Regions from separate parts of the Homo sapiens genome. Here region 2 is linked to region 1. Evidence: fine-mapped expression QTL. Tissue or cell type: whole blood. Region 1 holds a variant in brackets; the other region holds the start of a gene. All regions are shown on one strand. Distances are from middle to middle.

Region 1 (7,866 bases):
CCAAGATTTAAACTCAGCTTGAGCACTTAACCTGTGTGCCACAGGGCTCTTCCTGTTCATATCCATGAGAAACAAGTTATGTGGACAAAGATGGCCAAGACGAGAGATTGGTGGAGTATGGCCAGTAGTTAAGAATATGCAAGAATAATGTTTTATTTATTTATTTTTAAGACAGGGCCACGTTCTGTCACCTAGGCTAGAGTGCAGTGGTGCAGTCATAGCTCACTGCAGCTCAACTTCCCAGCCTCAAGCGATCTTCCCACCTCAGCCTCCCAAGTAGCTGGCAGTACAGGCACACGCCACCACATCTGGCTAATTTTAAATTTTTTGTAGAGACAGGGTCTTGCTATGTTGCCCAGGCTGGTCTTGATTCCTGGCCTCAAGCAATCCTCCTGCTTCAGCCTCCTAAAGTGCTGGAATTACAGGCATGAGCCACCGTGAATGGCCAGAAGCACAGTTTTAAAATGTTTGTTGATGGCTGGGTGCGGTCGCTCATGCCTGTAATCCTAGCACTTTGGGAGGCCGAGTCGGGCAGATTACTTGAGGTCAGGAGTTTGAGCCTGGCCCACATGGTGAAACCCCATCTCTACTAATAATACAAAAATTAGCTGGGCGTGGCGGTGGGTGCCTTTAATCCCAGCTGCTCAGGAGGCCAAGATAGGATAATTGCTTGAACCCGGGAGGCAGAGCTTGCAGTGAGCCAAGATTGCACCACTGCATTCCAGCCTGGGCGACACAGCAAGACCCTGTCTCAAATAAATAAATAAGTTTGATGATGACCAGTACAGCCTGGACCCTTTGCATTCAACGTGGTGCACTCCATCCTGGGTGACAGAGCAATACCCTGTCATAAATAAAATAAGTAAAGTTTGATGACCAGTACAGCCTGGACCCTTTGCAATGAAAGCGGATGCCTGGTGTTTAGTGCTCAAGCAGTGCTGGGGCCCTGGGCAGCAGCTGGAGGGTGGGCACTGGGGAGGACACCAGGAGGCTCAGAGCAAAGGCTACTCACCAACTGATGGGACTTTTCAATATTTCAACCATTGGTGTGGTTGTTGTCAGTCCATACTGGGTGAATCTCAGTCCTGATTTTATCTGAAATAAATCCACGTGGTTAGTTTGGTTAGTTCTCATTATAGAAGCCCCTCCCCATCCCCAAAACTTCTAATTATGGAAACTTAAATACATAAAAGTTGAGAAATAGTACAATGAAGCCAAGCATGGTGGTGCGCACCTGTGGTCCCAGCTACTCAGAAGGCTGAGGTGGGAGGAATGCTTGAGCCTGGGAGGTCCAGGGTGCAATGAGCTATGATTGCACCATTGCACTCCAGCCTGGGTGATAGGGCAAGGCCCTGTCTCAAAAAAAAAAAAAAAAGAAAAAAGAACACCCTCATTTTACAATTAACATTGTCATATTTGCCTTCTCTGTGTGTGCCTCTTAAGTGTGTGCGTCCGAGCATGCACTTTATGAGCCATTTGAAAGTACGCTGCAGGCATGTTTCACCCCTAAATACTTTAGTCTGCATCTCCTGAACCACAATGCCATTATCACAACTAAGAAAACGTATAATGTCATCTAACATCCAACTCTGATGGCAAATATTCCCAACCATGCCAAGAATGTCTTGTGTTTATTACAAACTCTCACATGCAAGTCATTTCAAACATCACCTCCCGAGATCCTTGTGTACCCAGAAGGGAACATGAGAAGAGAAGGTGGTGTTCTTGCCTTTGGTTTGCCTAAGGCCCCCTTTTTGTTCTCCCACTTTGGATTCGGTTGGATTCTAGGAGCAGTTACACATTTCTGTTTTTGTGTTTAAAAGCATGTAGGTTTCATGTAAGCTATATGCATGCACACACTAGCCACACATGGGACTCAAGTTTGTAATTTAAAAAGACATTTCCTTCCCCTATAATAAAGCATAGCTGGCATTTCTACATCTGAAGCGTCTAAGATAAAGCTGATGGTATCAGCATGTTGCTCTCCAAAGAAACAAAAGGTTATGATTTGATAGACCCTGAAATTAGACATCAAGGTCAAGAAAGTGTAAACTTAGGTGTGGTCGTTTTCCAAAGCTGTCACTCAGATGTTTAGCAAAATGTCCCCCTTTACATTTCCCCTGTCTTCCACAGGTCTCCCCCATCCACCCAAAAGGAGGAAAGTTAGGAGGGAAGATTGTCAAAAGTCCTCAAATATGGCTATTTTAGATTTCTTTTTTTCTTTTGGTGAGACAGAGTCTCAGTTTATCACCCAGACTGGAGTGCAGTGGTGCAATCTTGGCTTACTGCAACCTCTACCTCCCACCCCCAGGTTCAGGCTACTCTTGTGCCTCAGCCTCCCAAGTAGCTAGCTGGGACTGTAGGCACGCACCACCATGCCTGACTAAGTTTTGTATTTTTAGTAGAGATGGGGTTTTACCATCTTGACCAGGCTGGTCTCAAACTCCTGACTTCAAGTGATCCACCCACCTTGGCCTCCCAAAGTGTTGGGATTACAGGTGTGAGCCACCGCACCAGGCCTATTTTAGATTTCTTTTAATGTAGTAGCAGGTAACAAGCATAGTTCATATACTTTTACTATTTTTAATAATGACCAACGTTTCCTGAACATGAATAGTGGATTAAAGTGCTGAGTGGCATGCCTGGTGCACAGCAGGAGTCCAATATTAGCTATGGACAGTACCTGACATTCAGCGGATTTGAATCATTCAGACTTGAAACTGCACTATAATATTTTACTTAGTAAAATCTCATTAAAAATTTTTTTTAAATAGTATGTTTTGTAGAGACAGGGGTCTCACTATATTGCCCAGGCTAGTCTCGAGTTCCTGGGCTCAAGCTATCCTCCTACCTTGGCTTTTTCAAAGTGCTGGGATTATAGGCATGAGTTCCTGCACCTGGCATAAAGTTTCATTTTATATTGCAGCTTTTAAAGAATGGGAGTGCATCACATCTACTTTTAAAGGAAAGCTGAGCATGTTTTGAGTTATGCACAGTTTTCAGCAAAACAGCCCATGCATGAAATCCAACAGGCTTGTCAGATTAGGCTGGTCACTTTACATTATATACTTTCTCATGTAGTTCTCACGACAGTCCTGTTATTTAGAGATTGCCATTCGGCCCATCTTATAGAGAGGAAACTAAGGCTTAGAGAGGGTAAGTGACTTAACCTCAAGTATGTCTGAGTGGTGGAGCTGAAACCTCAATCTTGGTGTGGCTGACTTCAGACTTGTTACTTGTAACCACCGTGCAGTCCCAAGCTTGTGTTTGTTGCTGTTCCAAATGCAACATTGGTGCCTCTAAGCCTCATATCATGAACTGGTTCAGAGAGAGAAAGCCACAGTCCCCCCAGGTTCATTTAGTGTGTGTTCAGGTGTGTTGGCATGGTGCTTCCTTCAGTCTTTCTCAAGCCTCATAGGCAGAAAACCCTTCATGAAAGCATAGTGGTCAAGAGCCACGGGCTCTGGGGCCAGACGGCCTGTGCTTGCTCGAATTCCAGGTTCACACCAGTAACTTGTAAGTTATGTGACCTTGGGCAAGTTACTCAACCCTCATATGCCTCAGTTTTCTCATTTGTCAAATGGAGACAATAATAGTACCTAATTCATACTATTATTATGAAAATAAATGACTAATA[T/C]AAGCCTGGCATGCAGTGTGCTCTAGAGCATTAGCTGCTAATATTATCTCTGCCACCAAAGGCTTTAGCCAAGACTGCCTTCAAAAGCAGTGTTTGTGGGGTGGTAGTGTTCTAGAAAAGGTAATGTTTCCTTTTTTTTTTTTTTTTTTTTTTTGAGAAGGGGGTCTGATTCTGTCACCCAAGCTGGAGTGCAGTGGTGGTGCAACCACGGCTTATTGCAGCCTCGACCTCCCAGGCTCAAGCCATCCTCCCATCTCAGCCTCCTGAGTGGCTTGACTATAGGCATGCACCACCACACCTGGCTAATTTTTGTATTTTTAAATTTTTTATTTTTATCATTATTTTTGAGATGGGGTCTCACTCTGTTGCCCAGGCTGGAGTGCAGTGGCACAATTTCAGCTCACTGCAACCTTTGCCTCCCAGGTTCAAGCGATTCTCCTGCCTCAGCCTCCCAAGTAGCAGGGACTACAGGCGCACACCACCACGCCCAGCTAACTTTTGTATTTTTAGTAGAGATGGGGTTTTGCCATGTTGGCCAGACTGGTCTCAAACTCCTGACCTCAGGTGATCCACCTGCCTTGGCCTTCCAAAGTGCTAGGATTACAGGCATGAGCCACCATGCCTGGCCAGAAATTGGACACTTTATTTATTTATTTATTTTTGAGACGGAATCTCGCTCTGTTGCCCAGGCTGGAGTGCAGTGGTGCAATCTCAGTCCCCTGCAACCTCCACCTCCCGGGTTCAAGCAATTCTCCTGCCTTAGCTTCCCAAGTAGTTGGGGCTACAGGCACCTGCCACCATGTCCAGCTAATTTTTGTATTTTTAGTACAGACGGGGTTTCACCATATTGGCCAGGCTGGTCTCGAATTCCTGACCTTGTGATCCGCCTGCCTTGGCCTCCCAAAATGCTGGGATTACAGGTGTGAGCCACCGTGCCCGACCAATTGTACACTTTAAATTGGTGAATTTTGTGTTGTGTTAATGATATCTCAATATTTTTTGAAATGCCAACAGGGAACAAATCATCATTAGTGAAACAGCTCTTGTTCAGATTAGTAAGTAGAGCTCCAGTCCTGAGCTTTTAGTAAACAATTGTGAGCCCCAGTGATTCCACGTGGTCCTGCCCTATGTGTAGAGCCTTGGTTTGCAGCCTTCCCAGAAACAGAAATGCTTCTGGGAAACCACAGCTCCCTACCTGCTGAAGGAAATGGACACCTGAGATAAGCTGAATATATTGTGTGTGTAATCAGAAGGCAGGCAGGCAGGCCGGTTTTCCAGATGAGCCTAAGCTAATGGCTTAAAAGGGTGTTTAAAAGAGAAAGCAGTAGCCTGACTGGTCTGAACTCCTGCCCTGTCAGCAGAAACGGTGCAGTCACAATGAGAAGGGAAAGAGTATTTAACGCTGGTATGAACGGCAAGCCTCTGCCTCCTGATTTAGTTAATAAGCAGTTTTCCTATGGAATTGATTGAGGGGGAGAGAGGTTTTTCTCTTCCTGGCTCCCTTGGTGTGTGCCCTCTCATGTCAGAAGGCAGGAAGTTCTCTGGGAATTCACACCAGAGGTTTTGCCATTATTTAAGCAAATTAAGGCCTTTGGGAACAGCCAGGTGGCCTTTCAGGTTTTGTCAGGGCCAAAAAGCCCTATCACCTGCCAAGGTGTTGAGTCAACTTATTTACAGTGCTCAGAGCCAGTTCCTGTGCTGCTGAAATCCCTGAAGGCCTGCTCTAAATGGGCCTGGTCAGACATCAACACCGCCTGCCTCATCAGCACTTTTAGCCTTCCACCTGCAGTGCGGGCTTGACTGAGATGCCCCAGTGGCTTGTCCTGGGAAAACTGCTCCCATCTGTAAGCTGCCACCCTCCTTTGGTGACTTTGCCTCTCTCTGCCTCTTTACTCCCTGCACAGAGGGGCAAAGAGGCACATCCTCCAGGGAGGCAGGGCTAGGTGGAAGTTAAGGTGATGGGCTTTGGGGTCCGGCAGGCCTGAGTTCAATTCCCAGCTCTGCTGTGTGCTGTTATAGCTACGTGGCCTTGGGCAAATCCCTTACCACTGTGAGTATTGCTTTATTCACCTGTGAAATGGGAGTAACACGGTACCTACCTTCTAGGCTGTTGTGAAGATTAACTGCAATTCTGCATGGTGCTTCTGATAGGGTCAGTAACTGAGGGGTTGGCCGGGCACGATGGCTCACACCTGTAATCCCAGCACTTTGGGAGGCCGAGCAGGCAGGAGGATCACAAAGTCAAGAGATCGAGACCATCCTGGCCAACATGATGAAACCTCGTCTCTACTAAAAATACAAAAATTAATTGGGCATGGTGGCACATGCCTGTAGTCCCAGCTACTCGGGAGGCTGAGAAGAATTGCGTGAACCTGGGAGGTGGAGGTGACAGTGAGCCAAGATCACACCACTGCACTCCAGCCTGGCAACAGATGAGTGCTGGGGGTGTTGGAGGGAGGCTGGAGAATGAAAGGGAGGCAACTGAGGCCACAGTGTCTGGCTGTTTCCAATCCCCCCATCCCCAGCTGAAACCCTCTCATCTGCAGATAACTCCAAGACACTCCTTACTTCTCCCAGAATAAAAGCCCGGCTCTCTACAATGAGGCTCCAGCTACGTCTGACTTTGTCACTGACTACCCTTGTGTCACTCGCTCTACTCAGCCACCACCCTGGATTGGCTTCCAACCAAGTTGTGTTTGCTTTTCCCTCTGCCTGAAATGTCCTTCCAAAGGGGACCGTGTGGCTCCCTTCCTCCCTCCTTCCCTCCCTTCCAGCAAGTCTTAGGTCTCAGCTAAAACTGCCTTTGCTCTAAGTCACCTTCATTGCCTTTGACATGGCACACCACTGCCTCCAGCACTCCCTCCTTATCCTTCCTCCCTGTTTATTTTATTTTATTATTTTTTGTTTATTTATTTTGAGACAGAGTCTCCCTTTGTCACCCAGGTTGGAGTGCAGTGGCATGATTTTGGCTCACTGCAACCTGTACCTCCTGGGTTCAAGTGATTCTCTCCTGCCTCAGCCTCCCAAGTAGCTGGGATTACAGGTGTGCACCACCACACCTGGCTAATTTTTGTATTTTTAGTAGAGATAGGGTTTCGCCATGTTGGCCAGGCTGATTTCAAGTGATCTACCCATCTCGACCTCCCAAAGTGCTTGGGATTACGGGCTTCGGCCACCATGCCCAGCACCTGTTCTATTGTTTTCTCTACAGCGTTTACTACCTTATTGTATGTTTTTGGCTAAAGGGCCTTGGAGTCAACCCCAGGAGAACAGTGCTGATGAATCAGGAGTGGCGCTCCCATAACTTCATGCGTCTTCAAAGCTGGCTAGTACTGCACCTCATTCTCGTGATTTCATGCCCACAGTTACCTCCAGGGTGTTGGCTGAGCAGAGCAAGTGACATGAGGGTAGTTGGTGACAAAGTCAGAAGTAGCTGAGGCCTCACTGTAGAGAGCTGGGCTTTTATTCTGGGAAAAGTGAGTCTCTGGAGGGCTCTGCATAGAGCAGAGGCTTGTCATGGCCTGACCGAGGTTGTAGCAAGCTCAATGCGGCTACTGTGTAGAGAAGACGCCGTAGCAACCTGGGCCAGAATTGGGAAGATTAAGGAGCTACTGCAATGGTCCAGGAGTCCAGAGATGAATTGAGTCTGTGGGGAAAAAAGTGTCGGCTGACAAGCCGTTCTGTCTCCATGTTCTCCTCTCACCTTTTGACCACCCTGTCCCCACTCCTCAGCTGTGCTTTGTATTTTGTAATTCGCAGCACTCAAAGCACTCACACAGGAGGCCTGACATTATTTATCTGCAGGTCAGAGGGTTTGAGTTGAGGGTGGGGGTATTGGAAACAATTAGGCATTGTGGCCTCAGTTGCCTCCGCTTCATTCTCCACCCTCCTCCACACACCCGCAGCACTCATTTTAACCCCTCAGTATGTCTTTTACTTTTTCCTTCCTTTTTAGAGTTAGGGTCTCACTCTGTCATCCAGGCTGGTGTGCAATGGTGTGATCACGGCTAGTTGCAGCCTTGACCTCCTGGGCTCAAGCAATTAACTCCACCTCAGCCTGCCCAGTAATTGGGACTACAGGAGCATGCCACTACACCTGGCTAATTTTTTCTTTTTTTAGAGATGGGGTCTTGCCATGTTGCCCAGGTTGGTGTCGAACTCCTGAGCTCAAGCAATCCATCCCCCTTGGCCTCCCAAAGTGCGGGGATAACAGGCATGCAACACCATGC
Region 2 (7,866 bases), 41 kb before region 1:
TAGCCTCCAGGCAGGCCAGTGGCCAAAACACCCAGGAAGTGAAAGTCTGTCCTCTGCCATAAGGAAACCTGGAGTCTGTGATCCCATCATGCGGGGTCTGTTATCTGCCAGGTGACAGGGTCTCTTATCTATCTGCGGTGATCTGAAGGGCAAGGCCTCTGGCCAAACATTTCTTTTCCCCAGTGATGCCTGAAATTCCACTGTTAGCGCTGGATCTCAGCAAGATCTCAGAGAAAGCTCAACTCCTGGAGTTTGGGTTTTCCCCAGTTGAGATGTTAGGAAAGCAATGGGCCTTATCACCTGCACGGACAGGTTTGTGTACAGTCTCAGGGGATTCAGGGACCCCACCAGAGCCCATCCACAGACACCAGGTTAAAAGCCCTGGACAGCATTTACAACTCCTTTGAAAGAAGAAAAGTCTTTCTCTAGAGCCCTCTTTAAAGTGCAAATGGCCCTGGGAGGTTCGAAATGATGAGCTGGCCGGCATGAAAGAATTTTCTCCAGTAGATGCAAGAGATAACCTGAGGAGCTTTAGTGGCGGGGGTGGGGGAAGGAGAGCCTGGGGGAGGGGAGGCTCCAGGCAGCTCACAATTTTTCCTAGAACTGGAAAGGGAATGTATTGGGCCAAGAGGGCTAATCACTCACCTTTGCAGAGTGTTTACAAGAACCTTATGAATTAAGTGCTATCAACATTCCCATTTTACAGATGAGGAAACCAAGATGGTGGAGATAAAATGACTTATGCTTCTCAACTAATGGCAGAGCCAGAAGTGAATCCAGGCTGGAGTGAAGTGGCTCCAGTGCTCAAATGATCCTCCTACCTCAGCCTCCAGAGTAGCTGGGACTACAGGCATGCACTGCCATGTCCAGCTAATTCAAAATAATATTTGTTGGGGAGATGGGGTTTCACCATGTTGCCCAGACTGGTCTCAAACTCCTGGGCTCAAGTAATCTTCTCACCTCCCAACTAGCCTCCCAAAGTGCTGCGATTACAGTTGTGAGCCACCAGGCCTGCTTAGGTATCCCTGTTTGATACAAGAGAAAACAGAGGGCAGGCACAGTGGCTCACACCTGTAATCCCAGCACTTTGGGAGGCTGAGGTAGGTGGATCACTTGAGGTCAGGAGTTTGAGACCAGCCTGGCCAACATGGCGAAATCCCGTCTCTACTAAAATACAAAAATTAGCCAGACATGGTGACGTGTGTCTGTAATCACAGCTACTCAGGAGGCTGAGGCACAAGAATCTCTTGAACCTGGGAGGCAGAGAGTGCAGTGAGCCGAGATCGCGCCATTGCACTCCAGCCGGGGCAACAGAGCAAGACCTTGTCACTAAATAAATAAATAGGAAACAGAGAAGCAATTCAGTGTGTTGCGAAAGTCACACAGCACCTGTCTTCCACAAGGAGCCCCTCTGTGTTCCCGCCTCACCCTGGACACCTGATCTACTGTCTTTGGAGCTTGGAGAAGGACTTGCCGAGAAGTCTGAAGAATGCATCAGGCCTGACCTGACTTTGCTGCCCCTAATTGTTTTCTAAAATCCTTTTTATTGAATTATCAGAGTGTAATGGAAGAGTCGATGAGAGTCGCTGCAGAGTTACGAGGCCAAGGCTTGCTGGGTAGAAGAAAGTAAAGCCCTAAAGGCTCCCAGGGCCCAGCGATGGTATAAAATATGTATTTTTACATAACTGAGAGGAAAAAAATAAGCAGACAGTACAGCCCCATGGGGGAAACGCCTCTTTCTGTATTTCCATTATCTTGTTCAAGGCACGATCCTAGTGGGAAAGGAAATACCGGAGCCTTCTCCCTCTGAGCCTCCTGGTGGGTTAAGAGCAGAGGGAGCCAAAATACGACATCCAAAAGACCTGATTGGAAACTCATTAAAATTGAGGGGACAGGTTGTTGGGGGGGGCGGTGCTGGGCTGCCCAGAAATCGTCTGCATTTGAGAAATTACTTGATGGACTCAGAGGCACCTTTAGCTCTGGGTGAAATATTCCAAACATGGCTTTCCCCAGGAGGAAGCGAAATAGGGGCTGGGCCTTTTGAAAGAGTAACCCCTACTCCAAATATTTATTGAGCAGTTGCTATGATGAGCCAAGAACTCTGCTTAGCGATTGTTTTTGTATTAGCTCATGCCAATTCACTTATACAAAGGAGAACACTGACTTCCCCAAGGTCACAGGGCTAGTGAGTGGCTGACTCCACTTAATGCTGTGTAGTTCTAACCATGCTTGAAGGATAAAGGGAAAGGAGGTGCCCTTGTCGGGGTAGACAAGCCACCCAGACGTGGCTGGCCACAGGGAGTCAGACAGGGAAGTTGTCTAACCTAACATTTGCCTGTCTATTCTGTTTTTGTCTTTTGATGGAGGACGGCGGGTGCTGGAGGGCCACTGGCCCAGGACCTGAGACCTTTGGCCCCTATCTATTCTATTTTTGATCCTAAAATTATTTCACTGGGGACAGAATTCTCTGGAGAAGGTGATGGTGGCCATGGTGTGGCTGTGGCATTAAAAGCCCCACTCTGGGGGTCAGAAGATCCTGGGTTTTGGTCTTTGGCTTTGACATTGACCTGCCTATGTGACATTGAACAAGTTATTTGCAAATCATAGGTTTGGGTGAACTCTAAAGGTCTCTTCCAGGTCAACATCAAAAAACAGACTGAAAACTGCAGCTCCAGCTGGAAGACTGGGACCACATGAGATGAAGCTGATTGTTAGAAGAAAGGCCCTGGAATCAGAGAGGTTGGTTCCAGTCCTGCGCCACCTCTCATTGGCCTCAATCTCTCTAAGCTTCAGTTGCCCATCTATCATATGGGAATAATAATACAGCTCTTGGGTTGTTTTGAAATGAGCTTAAATGAGCTGGTCAGTGGCTGGGCACGGTGGCTCATGCCTGTAATCCCAGCACTTTGGGAGGCTGAGGCAGGTGGATCATCTGAGGACAGGAGTTCAAGACCAGCCTGGCCAACATGATGAAACCCTGTCTCTACTAAAAATACAAAAATTAGCCAGTCGTGGTGGCGCATGCCTGTAATCCCAGCTACTCAGGAGGCTGATAGAGGAGAACCGCTTGAACCCAAGAGGCGAAGGTTGCAGTGAGCCAAGAACACACCATTGCACTCCAGCCTGGGCGACAGAGCAGGACTCCGTCTCAAAAAAAAAAGAGCTGGTCAGTGTCAAATGCTTAGCACAGAGACTGGCACAGTAATCTTCAATGTCCAGCACCTATTGTTACTATTTTTTTTTTTTTTTTTTTTTTGAGACAGAGTCTTGCTCTGTCGCCCAGGCTGGAGTACAGTGGCGCGATCTCGGCTCACTGCAAGCTCCACCTCCCAGGTTCATGCCATTCTCCTGCCTCAGCCTCCCGAGTAGCTGGGACTACAGGCGCCCACCACCACGCCTGGCTAATTTTTTGTATTTTTAGTAGAGACGGGGTTTCACTGCGTTAGCCAGGATGGTCTCAATCTCCTGACCTCGTGATCTGCCCGCCTCGGCCTCCCAAAGTGCTGGGATTACAGGCGTGAGCCACCATGCCTGGCCCTATTGTTACTATTTTTACCCCTCACTTCTGTACAGAGCATTTATGGCTCAAGAAACATTTGTCATTTTAATTGTATGGGAGTCCCACAACAGCATAGGGAGACATTTCTGATCATTATTCCCATTAGGAGGGTGGAGAAACTGAGGCTTTGGGAGGTGGTCCTGACCTAGGGAATCAATTTGCTGACTCACTAACCCATGAAGCTCTACAGTTAAAAAAGACTAGATTAAAAAATGAGAACTCAGTAAAGGGGCTGAGGCAGGAGGATCGCCTGAGTTCAGAAATTTGAGATCAGCCTCGGCAACATAGTGAGATCCCCTCTCTAGAAAAATTTTTTAAAAAATTAGGCCGCTCGAGGCAGAGTGCAGTGGCTCACGCCTGTAATCCAACACTTCAGGAGGCTGAAGAGGGTGGATCACCTGAGGTCAGGAGTTCCAGACCAGCCTGGCCAACATGGTGAAACCCCGTCTGTACTAAAAATACAAAATTAGCCGGTGTGGTGGCACACGCCTGTAGTCCCAGCTACTCAATAGGCTGAGACAGGAGAGTCTCTTGAACCCGGCAGGCGGAGGTTGCAGTGAGCCGAGATCGTGCCACTGCACTCCAGCCTGGGCAAGACAGAGCGAGACTCCGTCTCAAAAAATACAAACAAAACAAACAAACAAAAAATTAGGCTGCTAGCTCAGTGGCTCATGGCTCACACCTGAAATCCTAGCACTTTGGGAGGCCAAGGCAGGAGGATCGCTTCAGCCCAGGAGTTCGAGACCAGGCTGGGCAATACAGGGAGACACAGCGCCCCCACTGCCCCTGTCCGCCCCGACTTGTCTCTCTACAAAAAGGCAAAAGAAAAAAAAATTAGCCTGGCGTGGTGGTGTGCACCTGTACTCCCAGCTACTAGAGAGGCTGGGGCCAGAGGACCGCTTGAGCCCAGGAGTTCGAGGCTGCAGTGAGCTGTGATCGCACCACTGCACTCCAGCTTGGGTGAAAGAGTGAGACCCCATCTCCAAAACGAACAAACAAAAAATCCCAAAAAACAAAAGAACTCAGCCAAGTGTAAAAGCCCTTTCTGATCCCAGGTCTTAGTGAGCCACCGGCGGGGCTGGGATTCGAACCCAGTGGAATCAGAACCGTGCAGGTCCCATAACCCACCTAGACCCTAGCAACTCCAGGCTAGAGGGTCACCGCGTCTATGCGAGGCCGGGTGGGCGGGCCGTCAGCTCCGCCCTGGGGAGGGGTCCGCGCTGCTGATTGGCTGTGGCCGGCAGGTGAACCCTCAGCCAATCAGCGGTACGGGGGGCGGTGCCTCCGGGGCTCACCTGGCTGCAGCCACGCACCCCCTCTCAGTGGCGTCGGAACTGCAAAGCACCTGTGAGCTTGCGGAAGTCAGTTCAGACTCCAGCCCGCTCCAGCCCGGCCCGACCCGACCGCACCCGGCGCCTGCCCTCGCTCGGCGTCCCCGGCCAGCCATGGGCCCTTGGAGCCGCAGCCTCTCGGCGCTGCTGCTGCTGCTGCAGGTACCCCGGATCCCCTGACTTGCGAGGGACGCATTCGGGCCGCAAGCTCCGCGCCCCAGCCCTGCGCCCCTTCCTCTCCCGTCGTCACCGCTTCCCTTCTTCCAAGAAAGTTCGGGTCCTGAGGAGCGGAGCGGCCTGGAAGCCTCGCGCGCTCCGGACCCCCCAGTGATGGGAGTGGGGGGTGGGTGGTGAGGGGCGAGCGCGGCTTTCCTGCCCCCTCCAGCGCAGACCGAGGCGGGGGCGTCTGGCCGCGGAGTCCGCGGGGTGGGCTCGCGCGGGCGGTGGGGGCGTGAAGCGGGGTGTAGGGGGTGGGGTGTGGAGAAGGGGTGCCCTGGTGCAAGTCGAGGGGGAGCCAGGAGTCGTGGGGACGATCTTCGAGGGAAGGAGAGGGGCATCCGTAGAAATAAAGGCACCTGCCATGCCAAGAAAGGTCGTAAATAGGAGTGAGGGTCCCGGGGATAAGAAAGTGAGGTCGGAGGAGGTGGGAGCGCCCCTCGCTCTGAGGAGTGGTGCATTCCCGGTCTAAGGAAAGTGGGGTACTGGAGAATAAAGACATCTCCAATAAAATGAGAAAGGAGACTGAAAGGGAACGGTGGGCTAGGTCTTGAGGGGGTGACTCGGCGGCCCCCTCCCGGGAGTTCCTGGGGGCTCGGCGGCCGTAGGTTTCGGGGTGGGGGAGGGTGACGTCGCTGCCCGCCCGTCCCGGGGCTGCGGGCTGGGGTCCTCCCCCAATCCCGACGCCGGGAGCGAGGGAGGGGCGGCGCTGTTGGTTTCGGTGAGCAGGAGGGAACCCTCCGAGTCACCCGGTTCCATCTACCTTTCCCCCACCCCAGGTCTCCTCTTGGCTCTGCCAGGAGCCGGAGCCCTGCCACCCTGGCTTTGACGCCGAGAGCTACACGTTCACGGTGCCCCGGCGCCACCTGGAGAGAGGCCGCGTCCTGGGCAGAGGTGAGGGCGCGCTGCCGGTGTCCCTGGGCGGAGTAGGGAGGGGTTGGAAAGGGGCCGAGAAATTGCACTCCCACACCCCTGGGTTGCAATGGGCAAGCTCCCTCCTTGGCTCAAACGACACCCCTTGGAATTTACGCAGATTTGGGGATCCAAACGTTTACGACTGAACACTGTGGTGGAGGGGGTAACCCTGCCTGGTTGTTGACTATGTTATAAAGAAGAGGAGGTTGAGGGCACTTACTAGAAGCCTTCGTATTTCTCTTATTGCCCTCAGCACTGTAGAGACAGTCTCTCATTTCAGACTGCAAAAACCTGGTGGGTGGGAAGGCCTGGCAGGAGTATTCCCGTTTTACAGTTGAGCAAACCGAGGCTAAGAGAGTGACGTCCACTTGCTCAGGGTCAGCAGAGCAGATATCTGAACTGGGATCTGACTCCCAGGCCCCATTAAGCACCATCTCTGGGATGACTGAAGAGCAGCCCTCTCTTGGTTACTGGGCTGTGGCTTTTGTTTACAGATATAAAAGCTTTTTTTTTTTTTTTTTTTTTTTTTTTTAAAGACAGGGTCTTGCTCTGTTGCCCAAGCTGGAGTGCAGTGGCACAATCATAGCTTACTGCAGCCTCCATCCTCTGGGCTCAAGTGATCCTTCCCATCTCAGCCTCCCTAGTAGCTGGTTATCATGGGCATGTGCCACCACACCTGGATAATTTTAACTTTTTTTTAGGCTGGGCGCAGTGGCTAACGCCTGTAATCCCAGCACTTTGGGAGGCCGAGGTGGGCGGATCACAAGGTCAGGAGTTCGAGACCAGCCTGGCCAACATGGTGAAACCCCATCTCTACTAAATAAAAATATAAAAATTAGCCGGGCATGGTGGCGTGTGCCTGTAATCCTAGCTACTCAGGAGGCTGAGGCAGGAGAATTGCTTAAACCCAGGAGGCAGAGGTTGCAGTGAGCTGAGATAGTGCCACCGCACTCCAACCTGGGTGACAGAGCAAGACTCCGTCTCAAAAAATAAATAAAAAATAAATTTTTTTTTAGAGACAGGAGTCTCTCCATGTTGCCCATGCTGGTGTTGAACTCTTGGGCTCAAAGGATCCTTCTGTCTCAGCCTCTCAAAGTGCTGGGATTGCAGGCCTGAGAGACTGTGCCTGGACCAAAACATCTTGATACAGGTACTGTTTCCCCCAAGGAATAATGATTTTTTTTTTTTTTTTTTTTTTTGAGATGGAGTTTTACTCTTGTTGCCCAGGCTGGAGTGTAATGGCGTGATCTCGGCTCACTGCCACCTCTGGCTCCCAGGTTCAAGTGATTCTCCTGCCTCAGCCTCCTGAGTAGCTGGGATTACAGGTGCCACCACCATGCCCAGCTAATTTTTTGTAGTTTTAGCAGAGAAGGGGTTTCACCATGTTGGCCAGGCTGGTCTGGATCTCCTGACCTCAGGTGACCCACCTGCCTCAATCTCCCAAAGTGCTGGGATTACAGGCATGAGCCAGCACGCCTGGCCAGGAATAATGATCTTTTTTTAAAAAAAGCATGGTAGTTCTGACTCAGGATGAAAATGCATACACCCAATGTACTTCTAGGCCTTATCGTTGTGACAATCTAGAGTTTGCTTTGTTCCACTTGACTGTTGTCCAGGGAGCAAGGGAAGGGGCTAGTTTCTCTTCTGGTTTCACTGAATCCCAAGTGCTTCCTTTATATCAAACCACTTTCTCCTCTCTCATGATTTTACTTGATTGGGTATCACAATAAGAGGCATTTTTTTTTTAAGAGAAATCACCCACAATTCCCCTGAGGGAACACCTCCACTGTGTCATTCTTCCAGTCTTTGACCACATGAATCTTTAGCAATCACGCTGTTGTCTTT

The links. PIP is the estimated chance that this variant, and not a neighbour inherited with it, causes the effect.
Region 2: it holds the start of CDH1, and the variant in region 1 is fine-mapped to the expression of CDH1 in whole blood (INTERVAL, PIP above 0.99).

The regions. Positions count from the first base shown.
Region 1 is chr16:68,773,767-68,781,632 of GRCh38, forward strand. All of the region lies in intron 2 of CDH1 (cadherin 1), which reads left to right. Among named protein-coding and RNA genes, the nearest start is that of CDH1, 40 kb to the left of the region's middle. RefSeq lists enhancers at 542-686, 5,368-5,971, 5,972-6,573, 6,575-6,719, 7,259-7,403 and cis regulatory regions at 614, 6,647, 7,331. The variant T/C (reference allele first, on the strand shown) is at 3,638.
Region 2 is chr16:68,732,412-68,740,277 of GRCh38, forward strand. CDH1 (cadherin 1) reads left to right here and starts at 4,881. Exons shown (of 16, transcript NM_004360.5): 1 at 4,881-5,052; 2 at 5,886-6,000. The coding sequence starts at 5,005. It also overlaps a transcript of CDH3 not described here. RefSeq lists enhancers at 179-854, 3,902-4,046, a cis regulatory region at 3,974 and a silencer at 4,927-4,996.